3 linked regions of the Homo sapiens genome follow. The protein of the gene in region 3 interacts with the protein of the main gene of each other region in a pairwise test. Each region holds a gene or a part of one and is shown on either strand. Other genes may lie near its edges.

The links. The genes of interacting proteins can lie anywhere in the genome.
Region 1: the proteins of INPP5D (region 3) and KHDRBS3 interact in binary tests that used the Homo sapiens proteins (3 or more experiments, as listed by UniProt).
Region 2: the proteins of INPP5D (region 3) and DAB1 interact in a two-hybrid assay, tested with the Homo sapiens proteins (one study listed by BioGRID).

What each region holds. Positions count from the first base shown.
Region 1 is NC_000008.11:135,453,285-135,460,455, forward strand, and holds the start of KHDRBS3 (KH domain-containing, RNA-binding, signal transduction-associated protein 3), read left to right. Parts: upstream 1-4,171; 5' UTR 4,172-4,582; coding exon 4,583-4,670; exon of another isoform or gene 4,671-4,691; intron 4,692-4,748; exon of another isoform or gene 4,749-4,895; coding exon of another isoform or gene 4,896-4,899; intron 4,900-5,259; exon of another isoform or gene 5,260-5,619; coding exon of another isoform or gene 5,620-5,626; intron 5,627-7,171. UniProt on the Homo sapiens protein: RNA-binding protein that plays a role in the regulation of alternative splicing and influences mRNA splice site selection and exon inclusion. Binds preferentially to the 5'-[AU]UAAA-3' motif in vitro.
Region 2 is NC_000001.11:57,008,061-57,015,060, forward strand, and holds part of DAB1 (disabled homolog 1), read right to left. Parts: coding exon 6,823-7,000; intron 6,638-6,822; exon of another isoform or gene 3,213-6,637; coding exon 3,085-3,212; exon of another isoform or gene 2,731-3,084; coding exon 2,635-2,730; 3' UTR 2,620-2,634; exon of another isoform or gene 1-2,619. UniProt on the Homo sapiens protein: Signaling adapter of the reelin-mediated signaling pathway, which regulates the migration and differentiation of postmitotic neurons during brain development.
Region 3 is NC_000002.12:233,203,258-233,208,433, forward strand, and holds the end of INPP5D (phosphatidylinositol 3,4,5-trisphosphate 5-phosphatase 1), read left to right. Parts: intron 1-868; coding exon 869-1,460; intron 1,461-3,448; coding exon 3,449-3,451; coding exon of another isoform or gene 3,452-3,500; 3' UTR 3,501-4,646; downstream 4,647-5,176. UniProt on the Homo sapiens protein: Phosphatidylinositol (PtdIns) phosphatase that specifically hydrolyzes the 5-phosphate of phosphatidylinositol-3,4,5-trisphosphate (PtdIns(3,4,5)P3) to produce PtdIns(3,4)P2, thereby negatively regulating the PI3K (phosphoinositide 3-kinase) pathways.

The DNA.
Region 1 (7,171 bases), on a different chromosome or scaffold from region 3:
ATGACAAATGAATTGGCCTCAGATGGCTGGGTAGCATTGCTGTTCCGGGACTGCATTTTGGGAGACACGGATCCAGAATGAATGCTGAGTGCTTGCTGTGAACTGACCTCTGGACCAGGCACTGGGGCTGGGCAGCTGAGCAGGCTCTGAGGACAGTGTGAAGGCAAAGGGGTCCACAGATGACGAGGACCAGATGTGTTAAGTGTGAACAGGAGCACAAACAATGCTGGTGGAGAGGACAGAGAGTGGAAAAGCTTTAAAATGCACATGGTGCCTATGTGAGCTTAATGCTTCAATTTCAACCTCAAAATGATCCTGTGAGGAGGATAGTAAGCAAGGCAGCTGGGGCCAAGCCGAGGTCTCTCTGGCCTTTGGTACAGTCGGATTAGGATTTCACAGTATGGCACTGCAGAGTTTTGGAGTAACTGGGATAGGATCCACCTTTCTTAAACAAAATGAAGAGGAAGCTTGTGGTGTGAACAGCAGTGAGAAGCTTGTAGTGTGAGCAGCAAATATGAAAACTTCCTCATAGACACACTCCCTACATTTTGTGTCTCCTCTGATGACACTGAGTTTGCTGCAGCTGTGTCTGACTTATTGCAGTTAGTGTCATAAAGGCCAAGGACTTGTCTTTCTCTCTCCAGGAGTCAGTAGGTGGGTGAAGAGGAGGCAGGTGTGGATTCTGGCAGACAGCGCTATGGCAGTGGGCTGGGGCCACAGGGACTTGCTGTGTTCTCAGAGATGGCCCAGTGTCACTGAGTGGGGTGGGTTTGGGAAGTACCCTTTTGTCTCTGGGGCTGAGAAGCTAGTCCCAGACCTGGATGTGAGAAGAAAGAGCAGCCACAGTTCCTTATTGCAGTGCGGGGCTTCCCGTCCAGACCTGAGCGCCTGGTCAGTCTAACCACAAACTCTGCAGATGGAGTAAGCAGCCCCAGTGCCCTGGCCTTAAGGGCCTTTGGAGAAGTCTGTTCTGTCCATGGCTATGTCCCCTGTACCCAGAGCAGTCTCTGCACATAGTATGTGCTCAGTGAGTACTGGTGTATTCTAGAGAGACCTCTTTTGGCCTGGAAGCCAAAAGACCTGAGTGTGAATACTACCTGCAGCTGCTTGTAGGAAAATCACCGGCTTTCCCAAGACCTGATTTCTCCTTTTCAAAAGAATCAGAGGGTTAGCGCCTGCAGGAAGGTGATCTCATGAAGATGAGCGGAGTGTGCAGCACAGCATGGAGGTGCCCCACAGCCAACGGCTCAGCCAGGTTGGTGGGTGGGGACAATTTCCTGAGCATCTCACAGAGACATTCATCTCCCTCCTCCCCGGAGGACCCTGCATGAGCACTCACAGCGTTTGGCACCTGCCTTCTTGGAAGGTTCTCGGAGAAGGAGGGTCTGGAGCAGAAGATTCAGTGCCCTTGCTGTCAGTTTCCCAGTGCATAGCCCTCCTCCACAGCTGCTGGTGGACTGACTGCCAACTCAGATCAGGGAGGGATGAAGAGCCAGTCAGGAGTGTTCCAGATTGCTACCTGGGAAGGCAGAACCAGGAAGGGAGAGAAAGAAGGGTCAGAGAGTCAGGTGGGCCTGGGATCCCCGCCGACAGCTGTGGAGCCTTAAGCAAGGTGGTATTAAACTGTCCCGGGCCTCAGTTTCCTTCTTTGTAAGTGGTGATCAATAGAATTTTCCTTACAGGGTGTTGCGAGAACCATAGTGAATCCTAAGTCATAAACATAGGGCTGGCACTTAATAAAAATAGTGATTACTCAAGGTCTGGACTGTCACCGGGGCAGATGGTCTGAATGGAAGACACAGAGGGAGAAGAGCTGTTAGAAGAGAGAGAGTCTAAGTGTTCCAATGAAGCCGCTGGGCATCCAGGCCCCATTGTCCTCTTCTAGCCTCATCCCAAACATTCTCTGTCCCCCTTTCCCCCTTTACAAGCAGCTGTCAGGGAACCCTACCATAGAATGTAAGTTCTGTGACACAGGAATATAAGCCAGAGGTGTATGCTTCCCTTCAGTTGTAAAAGGAAAAGACATTGTCCTATGAGTCCCTCCTGTTGTCCAGCAGGACTACTGGCATACCCCTGGTTTTGGGGGTGTGGACTGGGAAGCTCAGGCTCTAAGTTAATTAACAAAGTGGCATAGTGAGGCAGGTAGCAGCCAGGATGCAGGCATCCAGACTCCTGCCCTTCTGGGTGAGGGTGGTTTGGGAAGTGCCCTTTTTGTTTCTGGGGCTGAGAGGCCAGTCATAGACCTGGGATTGAGAAGAGCAGCCACAAGCAGCCTACAAGCCTGACGCTGGGCCCAGGTCAGAAACAGAGGTGCGACAGTCACAGGTCCTTCACTCAGTTGGCCAGGCCGGGGCGAAGCACCACGACCAGCAGTGAGGAGTCCACAGATGGGTGTCTGCCCAGCATCCCTGGAGTTACAGCTGAAGGGAAGGCGAGGGAGGCTCAGAAGGCCCAGAGGACAGCCTTGCAGCCGGAAAAAACCCAAAGCAAAGATCAGCTCAGCATTTCCGATAGGCAGAGTGCTGTTTTGGGTATTTCATTATGAGTTAACATATTTATTCTCATGAACTTCTTATGAAATAAGTTTGGTTGTCATCTCCACTTGACGGATGAGGACCCTGAGGTGAAGAAACTTGCCCAAGGTCACAGCTAGTGAGCAGCAGATCCATGATTCCAAATCCAGGCTGTTTAACCCCAGAGGCTTTGCTTTTAACTGTGCCATTTTTCTGCTTCTTGCAAGTTGAGACTGAAGAGAGCCATGAAGAAGACTCTTACTGGGGACTCTGAAATGACACCTTAGCCGGGGGAGGAGTGGAGCCTTGAGAGTGAGGGCAGTTGAGTACTCGGGTCTGGGACTTAGAGCTTCCAAGATTTCTACCACCTCCCACTCCCCTCGGGTTTGTAAAGCTGCCTCCATTTGCATTGGGAGTGCGGGGGGGCTGCCTGGGGGACTGTGGCGATTGTCCTCAGGCTATTGGCTGAGAGTGGTATGCCACTGACTTATTCCTCCAAGAGACATTTCCAGTACCCTCCATCCCTGCCCCCTGTACTACACACTGGTGACCTTCCCCCTCAAAAACAAAACTCAAACTCTGTCCCTGATGCTCATGGTCTACTGAAAACAGAATTACAGCTGTCTGTGAATGACCTCTGACCAAGCTGGGGGGACACAGAGAAGGGACTTGTGACTTGCTTTGCCAGGGAGGTCCTGAGAGGCTGTCCAGGGAAGGTGACATTGAGGCCGGGACTTGAGCTGGCTGTTTGAAGGCAGGAAAAATGGCAGGGCAAGGACTGGAGTCCTTCGCCTTCCTGGGGGACGTTTATTCCACATGCCTCGGGAAATCTGAAATGGCCTTGGAGAGCATTTGCTGGGGGTTGGGGGTGGGCGGAAGGGGACAGAGAGCATTGCCACCGACAGGCGGGGCGTCCCAGGGCCTCTCCCCAGGAGCGGATGAGCTCAGACGCGGCTCACTCAGCTGTGTCCAGGCACAGCCGGTTTATGACCTAAGAGAATGACAACCCAGGAGCAAGTCGGGATGACAAAGACGCCCAGAAGGGCACGCGCTTTTATGTAACCGACCTCTGAGCTGGCGGATCTCAGGAGGTTGGCGCTCTGAGCTCAGGCGCGGAGAAAGGACGGCGCCCCTGCCTTACTCTCTTATAAGTACGAGGGGACAGCAACGCGACATAACTTAGAGAAGTCCAGGAAGCTTTAGAGAGCAGGGCGGTCCCGCTGCTATTCCTCAGAGCGCGACTGGGGCGAACTGGGGCGCCCTTCCCAGCTCCAGCTCGGCCCTTGTCCCCTCTTCCCAGGATCACTCGCTGGGTGACCTTGGGCGAGCCACTTGACTTCTCTGAGCCCCAGTTTCCCAGTCCGTGCATCTGAAAGGCTGTAATAGCGTCGTGGGGCTCCCCACTCGGCCCTCAGGGCCAAAGGTGGGCGCCGGACACGCGGGAGGGGCCCTTGGACGCACCCCCTCTCGCAAACGCCCGGTTAGTCCCGGCGGACTCGCAGTGGAGAGCGGCCCCAGGAGGCGGCGGGCGGCGGGGCGGTGGGCGCCAGTGCGCAGGCGCGGCGCGGCAGGGCGGGGCGGCGGGCGCGGGGCGGGGCGGGGCGGAGCCGGGCGGGGCGGGGCCGGCGGCAGGCGCTGGGCGCTCGGCGCGGTGGCTCAGAGTGCGCGGGGCGGCGCGCGGCGTGCAGGTCGCAGCTGTGGCTCGGGTGCTGGCAGGTGCTGGCGGGACTGGCGGGGATCGCCGTGGACTGCCTCAGGGGCGCCGCAGCCCGCTCGGCCCGAGGGCCCGCCTAACCGCGCCGCCCGCGCCCGCTCCTCCTCGGCCCGCGCCCGGAGCGCGGGGGCCGCCGGCGCTGGGTACTCGGCGGCCACCGGGGATCGGGGCTGAGCGGTCGGTTCCCGCCCCCGTGCCGCCGCCGCCGCCTTCCGGCCGACCGCCCGGCTTGGCCGCTGCTGCCGCGTCTGGCCCCCGGGTCCCCGCCGCTGGGGGCGCGGGCGGGGTCGGGGGTTGCCGGGCGCCGCCCCCCGTGCGCCTGGAGTCCACATCCCGGGCCCGGCGGCCGGCGAGCATGGAGGAGAAGTACCTGCCCGAGCTGATGGCGGAGAAGGACTCCCTGGACCCCTCCTTCACGCACGCCCTGCGCCTGGTGAACCAAGGTGAGGCGCCGGCCGTTAACTGCCGGCCGGCGGCGGTTGGGGGCCGGGTGGAAACGCGGGGGCCCAGGGGGCCCCTCCGTGCCCTCTGCTGTCAGCGGACGCGGCGGAGACGGAGGCCCGGGTGGCCCCCGGGGTCGTTTGCACGGGGACCTGGGAGGCTGTGGGACACCTAGGGGAAGACCCTGATGTGAATTTTGGGGACTTGGAAGGAGAAGGCTGGGGCGCATGGGTGAGACTTGAAGGAAATCTTTGGGGACTCGGGCACACCCAGGGGAAACTTCTGGGTGGGGGACAGCGACCATCTGGGGGCTTCGTTGGGAACGAGGTTGAATTATGTCATGGAAGGGGAGCGTGTTGGACTCGGGGAAGTAGGGCGTTTGGTTTGTCTAAGGTACTGGAGAAAAAGCTGGAGGAAAATGGAAGGACTTGAGGGACTCAAATGCAGAAGAGGTGAAGGGAACAGGTGCTTGCATTGTTAGCGAAGTTTGGGGACCTTGGAAGAGGGTTGGGGTCAGACCCCAGCACCTGAGAGGAGAGGAGCTCCGTGGTCCCAGGGGAGGAGCCCAGTTCCCCCTCCCAGCCCTTTGTCTCTCCTGTGTCCAGGCTCCAACAGCCCTGGCGGGGCAGTCAGCCCTCCCAGGGGATGGGCAGCCCATGCCAAGCCTTGCAGGCTGGCCCTTGGAGAAGTCAGTAGGGGAGAAGAGGCCGGCAAAAGAGCACCGTTCCGGAGGGCGTTGGGTTGGGTGACCCTCATTGGTGGCTGGCTTGAGGTTCGGAATAGTGGTGAAGGGAGTCCTTGCCATTTTCACACGACTCCAGCCAGCTCAGGGTGTGAAAGATCCTAGGAAGTACTGCGGGTCAGGGATACAGAGATTTCTGGAGGCACGCCTACCCGGGACAGTGTTCCCCTGGCTTTTTCCTCCTGTGGCTTCCTGAATCATCTGCTGGCATGCACGGTAAATTAAGCCTTCCTTCCTGGGAGCAGTCTCCTACTTTTCCTGGAATATGTGTTTCAGATGAAGATGGGTGTGGGTGCCACTGGTCTGTCTTTTCTCTGGGAAATGGCAGCAACATGATCTGGTCAGATCTGTTACCTTTTGCAGGAATTACTGTGCACTGACAGTCTGTGGTTCCCTAGATGAATCGGATCTGCTGCTCTTAGTGCTCGCCCTGGCTTTTTTATTGTTGGAAGTGAAAGATGAGGCAGACATATTCTATTTGTATATAGATACCTATATTTTAAAACAGTGACCTCCAGTTTTTGCCTGTTTCAACCAGTTCTTCAGAGTAGAGTGTGTGTGTGGTTGACCGATGGTGGAGGAGAGACTCTTTACTGTCTCCAAGAATTTAAGAATATTTGAATTGTTGAACAGAAATAGACTTATGGAGCTCCCTCATTTTATTTTAATTGCAGGCTTATTTTTATTTCTTTAATAAAATGGGCTTGTGAAAAAGTGAATGGGCATGCATTCCTAAATAAAAGAAAAAAAATTAAGTTTTATTTCTATGCCCTCTGAACAGTTCTGCAGTTGAGTTTGTACTCCTGTGCCTGATGATTTACATGTATCTTTTATTGCCTGCTGGGCTGTCATCTCTGTGAAAGAAATTTCTTCATACATTGCATGAGATCCGTGGCATTGGAAATATTCTGGACTGTGGACTCAAGTGCATTTTTCCTAATAAAGTAGCTGAATCAAAGTTAGGTTGTACTCAATTAAGGAACAGTTAAACTGAAAGTACAGTGCGTTATCTTATTTTAAAAGTCAGAATTATTTTCTCTGCCGTGTTGCCATAGTATTGTGTTGCTAAAACGTCCAAAATTCTTTTGGATTCTGTGTTTTTACCAGTGTTAATGGCTTCCAGTTACTTGAAACAGATATTTACTGGGGAAATGTTGCCATTTAGTGTTTTTTAGGTATTCAACTTGATAAACTTACTTTTCATAGAAGTAATTCTTATAAGAAGTATATTTCTCACATGTGAAGGAAGGAGGAGGTGCTGCTCAGAATCTTGTCTTACTGTTAGTTTAGATGACTTCAGACTGAAACATTTTTCTCTTAAATCACAGGCTGATATTCGGAATGCAGAGCTTTATCATTTAAAACATTAATTACACGCTTATGTAACTGCAAAATTACAAGTGTTTTAAATCTGAAGCTACATGATTGTGAGGAAGCTTTGATTTTAAATCCAACCATCTTGTTATGGGCTATTTTTTCTTATTTAGTTATATTTGTGTTTGCCTCTAATGCAACTGTGTTTTCAGCAGTTATTCACATTGGAGTTGGTATTTCAGCACTAAATTGTAGAATGGGCCAGCATGGCAAACCTTAGCGTGCCATGTAATAGATATGTTTTATGGTATCTCTAAACTCTAACAAGGCCTTACATTTGCATAGTATTTTAAAGTTTCCAAGGCACTAGTTTTGTCCTCACACTTGCATTCCGGTAAGGCAGATGTTCATGTCTTCTCTTTTCAGGAAGGCAGCTGAGGATCCCAG
Region 2 (7,000 bases), on a different chromosome or scaffold from region 3:
AAGCTTTCAAAGGGAGAAAATTACTTCACCGAAGATTACAGTCCAGCCCTCCTCTGGAGCTGGGAGGTACTTATTTTGACTTGCATGTGATTCTAAGACAGCCCATTTTTTGGCAGTGAGCTGTGTGAGGCCCAAACCAGGGCCATTCTGATTATGGGGTGGGGCAAGCCAGAGAGCTAAGCAGCAGGCTTTTTTCTTTTTTTCCCTTCCAAAGCTGTTGTGACACATATTGAAAATTAATTATCTGAAGACAAAGTACAAAGCAAAACCTCCCAACCAATGGTCTTATACATGAAAGCTAAATGTATAAAATCCAAGAGAGTGGGGAGCGTGCATTAATTGGATATATGTGATGATGATAATGATGATGATAATGATGATGGTGATGGTGATGATGAGGGTAGCTAGCATCTATTAGGTGCTTTCTATGTGCTATACACAGTGCTAAGAGCTTCACATATATCACTTTATTTAGTTCACATAATAACCCTATGAGGTGGACACTATTTTTATCCTTATTTTTCAAATGAAGAAAATAAGATAGAGAATAATTATAAAATCACAGCAGTGTCACATAGCCAGGAAGTGGTGGAGCCAGATGCTGAACTCAAACAATGTTGTTCCAGAACCTAGATATTTTTTTTAAGCTGAATTTTAAGCTGATTACTCAGTGTCTGTCTCTGCGCTAGATACTCAACATAAACTATCTCAGTTACCATTATGGAGAATATAAGCCCCTTCTAGCAGATGAAGAAACCAAGACTCAAATTTTGGTTCTTGCCCAAGATTTCCCACTATTAAGTAGCTGAGTTAGGATTTAAACTCAAGTCCAAATCCTGAGTTCTTCCCACACTACTATGCTATGTCCATTTACAGCTCAGCTGTGGCTTGGGGTACTGGACAGAGCATTAAATGTGGAACAGACCAAAGCCCCATGAAACAGTTTGGCTTGTAGGATTGTCTCAAGCTGAACAGGTTCATAAAGATGAGGGTTTAATACATTGATCTGCAAATGGTGTAAGTCATCTTTGTTTTCTAGAAGAACTTCAATTTTAGGATGATGTTTGCTGTTATCCTGATGAATGGCTCTTGTCACCTCTAGTTTATTCACCAAATTTTTCAAGGCAAGGTTGAGCACGTGAAATACAACTTAGGCGGGGGGTAAAATACCTCGTGGGGAATCATCCCAAGGAGTCTGCCTATAGTCCCCAACTTTTCTTTTTCCTGAAACATTGACTTTGCTTTCAATATATCAACTCCCGAAGTAGCTTTGCAAGAGTGAACTTCTAAGTGAATCGTAGGTGGTTTTGCATGGCATGACATATTATTATGTGCTATTGCACTGATACAAAATGTGGCAACCTACACAGTGTGTTAGGTTCTTTAATAAAAATACCTGTTAACAAAATACACTTTCAAAATACCATATTAGCTTTCAGTAACTGTCTAACTTACGTGTGGGCTAAGACTAATTCTGAGGTAGCCTCAGAATCCATTTATGAGGTAGCCTCCGAATCCATTTATGAGTGGAGAAAACTGTTTACCATTTTAATGGTTTTGACCATGCTGTTCAGAACTTAAAAAAGGAGCCTTTTGGGAATGGCCTTGCAGTCCTGTGTGTTTATAGAAAACTAAGAAGGTATCTGAAAATTGAACACGTTTGTCAAGAAGTGACCTTAGAAATCATGTCTGGGTAACAAGGTGTACTTCTGTCTCCTAAGAAGGTTTGCTTCATCAGCTCCTCTTTCTTTCGATCAAATCAGATGTATTGAAATTCAAGTGCCAAAAGCCACTTCTAGTAAATGTAAGTACATCTCTCTCAAAGTAGCTGCTGATGGAATCTGAAGTGATTTGGTGGCAATCCACATGCTGCAGCACAGGTGCAAACAGCACAGCCTCAGAAGTGAGTGCTACACATCTCTGGGCTTTGAATTTCACATCAGAAAGGATGCAGGGTGCAGGGTCCTTTCTGGCTAGACGAAAAGGGCTTCCTCTGATCTTACATCTCGATCAATCTTATTTCAAGCACTGCTTGTTTTTGCTTCTTAGTCTGGCTTCTCTGTGTGTTTGATTGGTGACCTCTTTAGATCTGCAGACTGTAGGCAAATGCAGTGACATTTTGCTTAAAAGATTAAAGCATCTGGACCATGGCTCACTGAGAAATTATCAGGGTGGGCAGAATGTGTCCATCTCAAAATGTTGATGCTTCCAGAAACTAAATGCATGCTAAGTAGCATGGACCATGCCTCATTCTATCACCACCAACCACGCAGAACATATTATTAATAAAATAATATGATCAGTTCCCACTTCTCACCCCTACCCCTACCTCCCAGGATATGTCAAAGGTCATGCATCCATGAGAAAAGGCAAAGTAGAACGTAGACACCAGGCAAAGGGACATGGTGCAGACACTGGTGATATAGCTCAGGCAAGAAGAAATAGTGCAAACATCAGGAATACAGTTCAGGGAAGGAGCGATGGTGCAAACATCAGCAATACAGCTCAGGCAAGGAGACATGGTGCAAACATTGAGGATGTGGCTTCAGAAGTGAAGAACAACCAAAAGGGAAAGCAGATAGCTTAAGGGTAAAGGAGATAAAAAGGACAGATACCTACCCAGACCTGCGCTATCTAGCTACCGGCCTGTGGACTTATATTATCACCACTGGGCTCCCCACTGGGCTCACCAAATGGATCACTGTTGGATGAGGCCTGTGATCCATCAGGCTAGAACACAAGAAGATAATACTTTTTTTTTTCTCTCTTTTCAAGCATTGAAAATATAAGACACCTGGATATACTTTCATGCAGCACAATCAGTTATTGTAAAGGAGGGTGCAACGGCATTTAGAGGATGCTACACCACAAATGTGGACTTGTAGTAACAATTTAATAAAAAGGCAGTCCTTTTCAGCTGACTCATTTGAACACAAAAGAAAGCCCCTTTAGCAACCCCTTGAGAACTTATGAGATTGAGCCAGCATTCTTTTCTATGTAGGCTTCCTCATGCATTATCCATTTCAGTTACAGAGGTCTTAATTTTAAGGAAAAACACAAACAAATAACAAACTGGTCACTTACAGCTTCTTGCTCTTCGCTTTTGCTGGGACTTTCAAAGCCCTCTTCAAAGATGTCATCTGTGGTAGGATCACTGGCATGGGATGCAGATGATTTGGATGGAGAGCTCTGTCTAGGGGCTGGGGTTGGAGCTACACAGAGACCACAGAAAAAGAGACATCTTAAGTGCCTGGCTGCCATGAATGTATCCCAAAGAAACCTCAGGAATCTGCTTATATTGAAGTCAAATCTTAGGATTCCTCTTCCTATTTCCAGTGGAATCAGTTGAATATTTGAATTCTCTCTCTGTACGTATTGATCTTTCCTCTCACACATCTGACTTCAGGAAGGAGCTCGTCCACACTGATAGGTAAGGCAGTGGTTCTCAAAGGATGGTCCTTGGACAAGCAGCAGCAGTAGCATCTGGGAATTTGTTAGAAATGAAATTTTCTGACCCTACCCCAGATCTACTGAATCACAGACTCTGTGTTTGAACAACCTGCTACAGGTTATTCTGATGCATGATCAAGCTGAGAACTACTGGGCTATGGTTTGCTTTCTTCTTTCTGTGTTTCATCAGAGGGCACGTTATTGAGCGCCTTTCATGTGTCAAACACTGTTAGAAACTTTACAGACAATATCTCTAATCCTCATAAAACATCTTTGAGGTAGAGGTTATCCTAATTTGACAGGTAAGGAAAGTGAAGTTTGCTAATTTGCTCATGGCAACTGGTAGAACCAGATTCTGAATCCTGGCACATAGGAGGTATTCAATAAACACATGTTGAATAAAGAGAAAGTGTCTCAGTGATCTGGGAAAATGGATGTAGCTGATGGCAACTTCACAGCTGGTACTTGATTCTATAAGGACAAAGGATACGCATTTTCTGGGCTGACCCACCCACATCTCCTCTCATTTGTTTTAGAGGTTTAGAACAAATATGCCATTTGATACCACTCTTCTTTTAATAAATTCTAATTTGTCACTGAAAATACTGGTTACTGGCTAAGACCCAAGTGAGAGGGTGGCATGACTTCATTTAGCAGCTGAATTTTCCTAATGTTATAGAACTTAGAAATCAGACAGTGAATGATTGTAAAACTTAGTGCATACTTTTTACTCTGATGAATCTATATATAGAAAGATGATGCTATTTCCTAACTTATTATTTATAATGTGCCAATGAGTTGGACACTGTGCTAGGCACTTCCCATTCATTATACACCTTAATATAAATACCTGCAAGTTGTTATCATAACTTTTTTGTTTCCCAGATGGAGAAATTGCAGCTCAGGGAGGTGAGGTGTCTTGCGAAGGGTTAACACAGCTATGAAATAGCAGCACTGGCATTTAACAGAGCTCTGTCTGACACTATCCAGTCCAACTGTGCTTTTCTGTTTCTATTTGAGGTTCACTTTTGATCCAACCAATCCTCTTCCCAAAACATTCTTAAGGGGATACTGATGGGTCAGAGGATATAAAGACTGGTTCTAATTTTGTTCAAAATAAAACAGCAAGTTTTTGGAAAAAAATTTGCAATGAAATCTGTTTTGTTTCAGGAGATGACTATGGAACAAACTGTATTGAAAGTGGGTTTAAAGCTATATGCAAACACCCTGAAGGGTAGTAGATGTTTAATAAATATTAGCTTAATTAGATCCTGAATTGTATTTGAAGTGGATTTTTGCTTACTAAAGGTTGAGAACACAAGCTGAGTTGCCAGTTCTGGCAGGTATACTGCTCAGACTTACCTAATGAAATCAATGGAAAGCATAAGCAGGAGTTTATTTATGCAGGTGTCTTAATCTTTAGAAGGCTTTATAGGATGCTGCTAATACTCTAAAGCAGTGGTTCTCAGTCTGGGGCAATTTCATCCCTGGGGTACATTTGGCAATGCTTGGAGTCATTTTTCTCGACACTAGAGGAAGGGGATATACGTTTCTCTCATAGAGTGATTAGAGGCCAGCGTTGCTGCTAAACATCCTACAATGGGACAGCCTCTGAAACAAAGAATTATCTGGCCCAACATGTCCATAGTGCCGAGGTTGCCAACGATGCTCTAAAACATAACAGTAGCTAAGTCATCTCCATTTTGTTTATTTCATTCTCTATAACCTTTCCCAAATGCCTCTCATGTCCCAGGCACTAAGCTAGCATTATGAGAAGTGTAGGAATGATGGAGCCAGTTCCTGCCCTCAAAGAACTTAAACTCTCCTCTTTCATTTGTAGCTGGCACACAAGTCCATTGAAAGAGAGATGTTTGTTTTTAAAAAGATGCTTGCTTATTTATGCATGGCTGTCATTTCTTTAACATTTCATTTTTTATTCATTATTCCTCATTGAAACCCTGTGAGTCTGCATAAATAGAGATGCTGCCACTATGTAGATCATATGGCCTGAGTGCAAGTGGGTTGTTTATACACGTTAAGGGCATTCATTTTCAGAATAGCATTCTGAACCTGGCTGAAATGGCACAATCTAATTGTATTAACATTAGGGGTGTTTTTTTTTGACAGTTCACAGTATTGGCCATGCAGTGATCCATATCACCTGTGACAGTAATGAAACCGCCAAACTCACTGCAGCATGAGCCTTTTCTTTCCTCTTATCAGGTGTCAAGGCACAGGCTGAGTCATCAGAACACCTTCCCTGAATTGTGTCAAACAAGTGTACATGTGCTCAAGTGTATCTGGATTCTGATTTGGCTGCACAGTCACTGTTTTCCAGATGTTTGCAGAAGAAATATGAGCTGGAGGAGACTCACTGAAAGCTGGAACTAGAAGGATGCACACTGCTCATCCAAGCCAATTCACTTATTTTACCAATGATAAAACTGAGTCTCAGAGAAGTCATACGCTTGCCCAAAGACACAGCTTGTGGTGGAGGAGTCAACACCAGAACTCTGGTCCAGGACTGCAAAAAAACACTTAACATGTGCTAATAATGAGGATAAAAGATACTTCAAATTCTGGGAGTTCTATAATGTTTGAGCACATATACCATTGAATCCTTTTAATAACCCATCGCTTACACAGATGAGGAAACCAAGGCTCATAGAAATAAAGTGCTTTGCCAAAAGGCACAAAACTGGTCAGTAATAAATCTGATCTCCAGGTTCCCAGTCCAGAACTTTCTGCAGCACTATCTTTTTGTTCCCTTTAACTACCAGAAGCTTTAACCCAAAATGAGGCTTCAACTATAAAAGCTATTTAAGACCTTATGGCTGCGTATCTCTGCCCTAAGTTTTCTCTTGATCCTTATTTTATATTCTAATGTTTAAAACTTGTTCCCCAAATTTTTAAAGTTTGCATTCATTTTATTTCAATAAGCCACGCCAAAATCTGTGTGTCATAAGCTATCTATACGTAAATAAATGAACGAATGAATGAGCAAACAAACAAAATCTTAAGAGGCAGAGTAACATGGTGGAAAAATACCAGGCTTACATTCAATTCAATACCACTTTGTCTATTGTCTTCATCTTTGAGCCTCACTTTCATTATCTGTCAAACAGGTCTAACAAAATTTATCATTAAGCATTATTATAAGTCTAAAAATAAACATGGAACATATGAAGAAGGTTTGTATGTTATCAGTGGTATCTAAATTGGCAGCTCATAGTAGTATTACTAGTAATAATAATATAAACAAAGAAGCCTGATTAATGCAAGTGAGATGAGTTATTTGACTCCAGAAACCCCGCCTCCAGACATGAGTTACGGCTCTCATTGGGTTTTATGTCTTAAGTGAGGGGCACTCACGTGAGTTGGTCGATGGTGTGGTAGAAGTCACAGGGGTCAAATTCAACTGGGAGATGTCAAAGTCATCACAGTCGTCTGTATCCTGTGCCACCCCGACTTTGTTGAAGTAACTGGAGAAGGCCTCTGAGGTACAGGTGAGGGAGGGCTGGTCGGGTTTGCGGGAGGGCACGGGCGGAGG
Region 3 (5,176 bases):
AGGAGAGGCTGCGGGGTGGGGATGGGAGGAACCGGGAAAGGAGGCCTGTTGACTGGGGAGGTGGGAAGGGGCTGTGGAGAGCAGGCTCATCTGATGAGGATGAGGGGTTGATACTGAGGTGCCATGTAAGTTCTCACTTCATTTCTCCCACAAATCCTCCAGTGCCATGCCCCTTGCTCACAGATGCTCTGATGTGAACAGGTTTTATAGTGGAAAAGGTCCCAGGCCAGAACTGAGGCTGTCTTTGAGGACAACGTATGATGAACACAGTACTGTTTCCTCTTCCTTTTTTTCACTTGAGGTGAAATTCACTTAACATAAAATTAACCATTTCAAAATGAACAGTTTGCTAGGCTGGGCACAGTGGCTTATGCCCATAATCCCAGCACTTTGGGAGGCCAAAGTGAGAGGACTGCTTGAAGCGAAGAGTTCAAGACCAGCCTGGGCAATATAGTGAGACTCCCCATCTCTACAGAATAAAACAAAACTAAAAAATTAGCCAGGCCTGGAGGCATTGCTACTCCCAGCAATGTCCAGCTACTCCTAGCTACTCCCAGCTACTCCCAAGTAGTCTCAGCTACTTGGGAGGCTGAGGGGAAGGACTGCTTGAGCCCAAGAGGTTGAGGCAGCAGTGAGCCATGACCGCACCACTGCACTCCAGCCTGGGTGACAGAGCGAGACTCTGTCTCTAAAACAAAACAAGACAAAACAATTTGGTGCCATTCAGTAAATTTGCAATGTTACATGTCTCTATCTAGTTCAGAAACATTTGTATCACCCCAAAGAAAGACCCAGAGCCATTAAGCAGCCATGCTCCCATGTCTTCTCCCCTGGACATGTGTCTTCCCTGCTCTGTCCCTGGCTCTAGGCCCAGTGACCTGGGGAAGAACGCAGGGGACACGCTGCCTCAGGAGGACCTGCCGCTGACGAAGCCCGAGATGTTTGAGAACCCCCTGTATGGGTCCCTGAGTTCCTTCCCTAAGCCTGCTCCCAGGAAGGACCAGGAATCCCCCAAAATGCCGCGGAAGGAACCCCCGCCCTGCCCGGAACCCGGCATCTTGTCGCCCAGCATCGTGCTCACCAAAGCCCAGGAGGCTGATCGCGGCGAGGGGCCCGGCAAGCAGGTGCCCGCGCCCCGGCTGCGCTCCTTCACGTGCTCATCCTCTGCCGAGGGCAGGGCGGCCGGCGGGGACAAGAGCCAAGGGAAGCCCAAGACCCCGGTCAGCTCCCAGGCCCCGGTGCCGGCCAAGAGGCCCATCAAGCCTTCCAGATCGGAAATCAACCAGCAGACCCCGCCCACCCCGACGCCGCGGCCGCCGCTGCCAGTCAAGAGCCCGGCGGTGCTGCACCTCCAGCACTCCAAGGGCCGCGACTACCGCGACAACACCGAGCTCCCGCATCACGGCAAGCACCGGCCGGAGGAGGGGCCACCAGGGCCTCTAGGCAGGACTGCCATGCAGGTGCGCTGCGCCACACGTGGGTTCGTGTGCATTTGTGTGTGTGTGCATGCGTGAGTGCGTATGTGTGTACCTATGCATATGTGTGTGCATGTGTGTGTGCACGCATGCATATGTGCGTGCATGTGTGAACGCATGCATGTGCACACATGCGAGTGATGGTCCTGGGAACTGCTCCATGAGAAGGGAGAGTCAGGATTTGAACCCAGGTCTGCCTGTCCCACACATCCCTGACCCTGCATTGCCTCTGCAGCAGTTGTTAAAAGGAAGAAAGGCGGGGCTGTGGATAAACTTAGTCTAGTGTCAGTCCCAGAGGAAGAAGATTCCATAAAGAAAAGGAGCCTAAATCATTTATATCTCATTGTTATTATAAATTTGTTTTGCAACTGAGTTTCGCCAGGCACAGTGGATCACGAGGTCAGGAGATCGAGACCATCCTGGCCAACATGGTGAAACCCCGTCTCTACTAAAATACAAAAAATTACCCGGGCATGGTGGCGCACGCCTGTAGTCCCAGCTGCTTGGGAGGCTGAGGCAGGGGAATCGCTTGAACCTGGGAGGCAGAGGTTGTGGTGAGCCGAGATTGCGCCACTGCACTCCAGCCTGGTGACAAAGCAAGACTCCGTCTCAAAAAAAAAAAAAAAAAAAAATTAAAAAACAACAACAACGGAGTTTCACTCTTTGTTGCCCAGGCTAGAGTCCAGTGGTGTGATCTCGGCTCACTGCAACCTGCGCCTCCTGGGTTCAAGCGATTCTCCTGTCTCAGCCTCCCGAGTGGCTGGGATTACAGGCACCTGCCACCATGCCTGGCTAATTTTTGTATTTTTAGTAGAGATGGGATTTCACCATGTTGGCCAGGCTGGTCTCGAACTCCTGACCTCAGGTGATCTGCCTGCCTGGGCCTCCCAAAGTTCTGGGATTACAGGCATGAGCCACTGCACCCAGCCTCATTGTTATTATTAAGTCGCATTCATACTTGAAAATTTCCCAATATTTTGGAGAATTCAGCACACTTTCCCTCTCCTTCATGTAAAATAAAAAATTTTTTGAGCAAAACTAACAGTGATTAAGAACAGACTCCAGGCCGGGCGTGGTGGCTCATGACTGTAATCCCAGCATTTTGGGAGGCCGAGGTGGATGGATCACCTGAGGTCAGGAGTTCAAGACCAGCCTAACCAATATGGTGAAACCCTGTCTCTATTAAAAATACAAAAATTAGCTGGGCATTGTGGTGTGCACCTGTAATCCCAACTACTCGGGAGGCTGAGACAGGAGAATTGCTTGAACCCAGGAGGCGGAGGTTGCAGTGAACCGAGATCGCAACACTGCACTCCAGCCTGGGCGACAGAGTGAGACTCCATCTCAAAAAAGAGAACAGTCAGGCTATGTTGGATTTGAATCCCAGCCCTCCCACCTCCTGGCTCTGTGCCTTGAGCCTCAGTTTACCCATCTGTAAAAAGGGGCTGTTAATAGTACCTACCTCATAGACTTAGAAGGAGAATTGCATTGTAGGCTATTATGTATTATTACCATGTATTATCATCTATATAGAAATTATATATTTATATTTATGTATTTACATTGATATCCATTACATATCATTTCATATATATATACTATACATATTACATATGTGTATATATTTTATATATATATATGGTACGTACCTGGGTGTGGTGCCATGCACCTGTAGTCCCAGCTACTGGGGAGGCTGAGGCATGAGGCTAGCTGGAACCCAAGAATTCAAGGCTGCAGTGAGCTATGATTGCACCACTGCACTCCAGACTAGGCAACAGAGTAAGACCCCATTTCTAAAAAACAATTTTTTTAAATAAGCAGGTAAAGTACTTAGAGCAGTGAGTGCTGGCTCTTCTCAGCTACACGTTAAAGGAAGCCTGGCCTAGCCCACAGCATGCAGGGACCTGGGCCACTTAGTTCAACATGGCCTGGTGAGAATGAGCCCTGACAGCCCTTCTGTTCTTGTCCCACAGTGAAGCCCTCAGTGAGCTGCCACTGAGTCGGGAGCCCAGAGGAACGGCGTGAAGCCACTGGACCCTCTCCCGGGACCTCCTGCTGGCTCCTCCTGCCCAGCTTCCTATGCAAGGCTTTGTGTTTTCAGGAAAGGGCCTAGCTTCTGTGTGGCCCACAGAGTTCACTGCCTGTGAGACTTAGCACCAAGTGCTGAGGCTGGAAGAAAAACGCACACCAGACGGGCAACAAACAGTCTGGGTCCCCAGCTCGCTCTTGGTACTTGGGACCCCAGTGCCTCGTTGAGGGCGCCATTCTGAAGAAAGGAACTGCAGCGCCGATTTGAGGGTGGAGATATAGATAATAATAATATTAATAATAATAATGGCCACATGGATCGAACACTCATGATGTGCCAAGTGCTGTGCTAAGTGCTTTACGAACATTCGTCATATCAGGATGACCTCGAGAGCTGAGGCTCTAGCCACCTAAAACCACGTGCCCAAACCCACCAGTTTAAAACGGTGTGTGTTCGGAGGGGTGAAAGCATTAAGAAGCCCAGTGCCCTCCTGGAGTGAGACAAGGGCTCGGCCTTAAGGAGCTGAAGAGTCTGGGTAGCTTGTTTAGGGTACAAGAAGCCTGTTCTGTCCAGCTTCAGTGACACAAGCTGCTTTAGCTAAAGTCCCGCGGGTTCCGGCATGGCTAGGCTGAGAGCAGGGATCTACCTGGCTTCTCAGTTCTTTGGTTGGAAGGAGCAGGAAATCAGCTCCTATTCTCCAGTGGAGAGATCTGGCCTCAGCTTGGGCTAGAGATGCCAAGGCCTGTGCCAGGTTCCCTGTGCCCTCCTCGAGGTGGGCAGCCATCACCAGCCACAGTTAAGCCAAGCCCCCCAACATGTATTCCATCGTGCTGGTAGAAGAGTCTTTGCTGTTGCTCCCGAAAGCCGTGCTCTCCAGCCTGGCTGCCAGGGAGGGTGGGCCTCTTGGTTCCAGGCTCTTGAAATAGTGCAGCCTTTTCTTCCTATCTCTGTGGCTTTCAGCTCTGCTTCCTTGGTTATTAGGAGAATAGATGGGTGATGTCTTTCCTTATGTTGCTTTTTCAACATAGCAGAATTAATGTAGGGAGCTAAATCCAGTGGTGTGTGTGAATGCAGAAGGGAATGCACCCCACATTCCCATGATGGAAGTCTGCGTAACCAATAAATTGTGCCTTTCTCACTCAGCTGTGTGTGTGGCGTTTTTCCTGACATTCGGAGCCATAGATATCCTTCTAGATGGCAGGGCCTGCACAGGGCACAACTGAGGCAGTTAAGGGTTCATGGTGGTGATGGATGGTGTTGCCCTGACCAGATGGGACACCATAGAGCCAGTTTGAAGCTGGTCCTGGACTAGGAACAGGAGTAAACCGCACCCCTTCCTTCCTTCCACCCACACATCTTCCTGGCACTCCAAGCACCCTGCGGCCACCCAGAGGCCACGAGCATCCCCTCCAAACCTGCTGTCCTGCAGCCCACAAGTTCCTCCCAGCTTTTATAAGTTTTCACCACTTAAGCTGCAGTGACAAAAAAAACACGTCAACACTCCCCAGGTCATGGGTTCCCAGGTCAGGGAGTAGACCCCCGCCCAGAGGCACAGTGCGGGCCACTTCCACGGCGCCTCTGCCCCACCTTGGGCTGCCTGGCCTCTGCTTCTGCTCACAGACACCAGGCCTGGGCTCCAGGCAGGGCCTGGAGCCGTGTCTTTGGCAGCCTC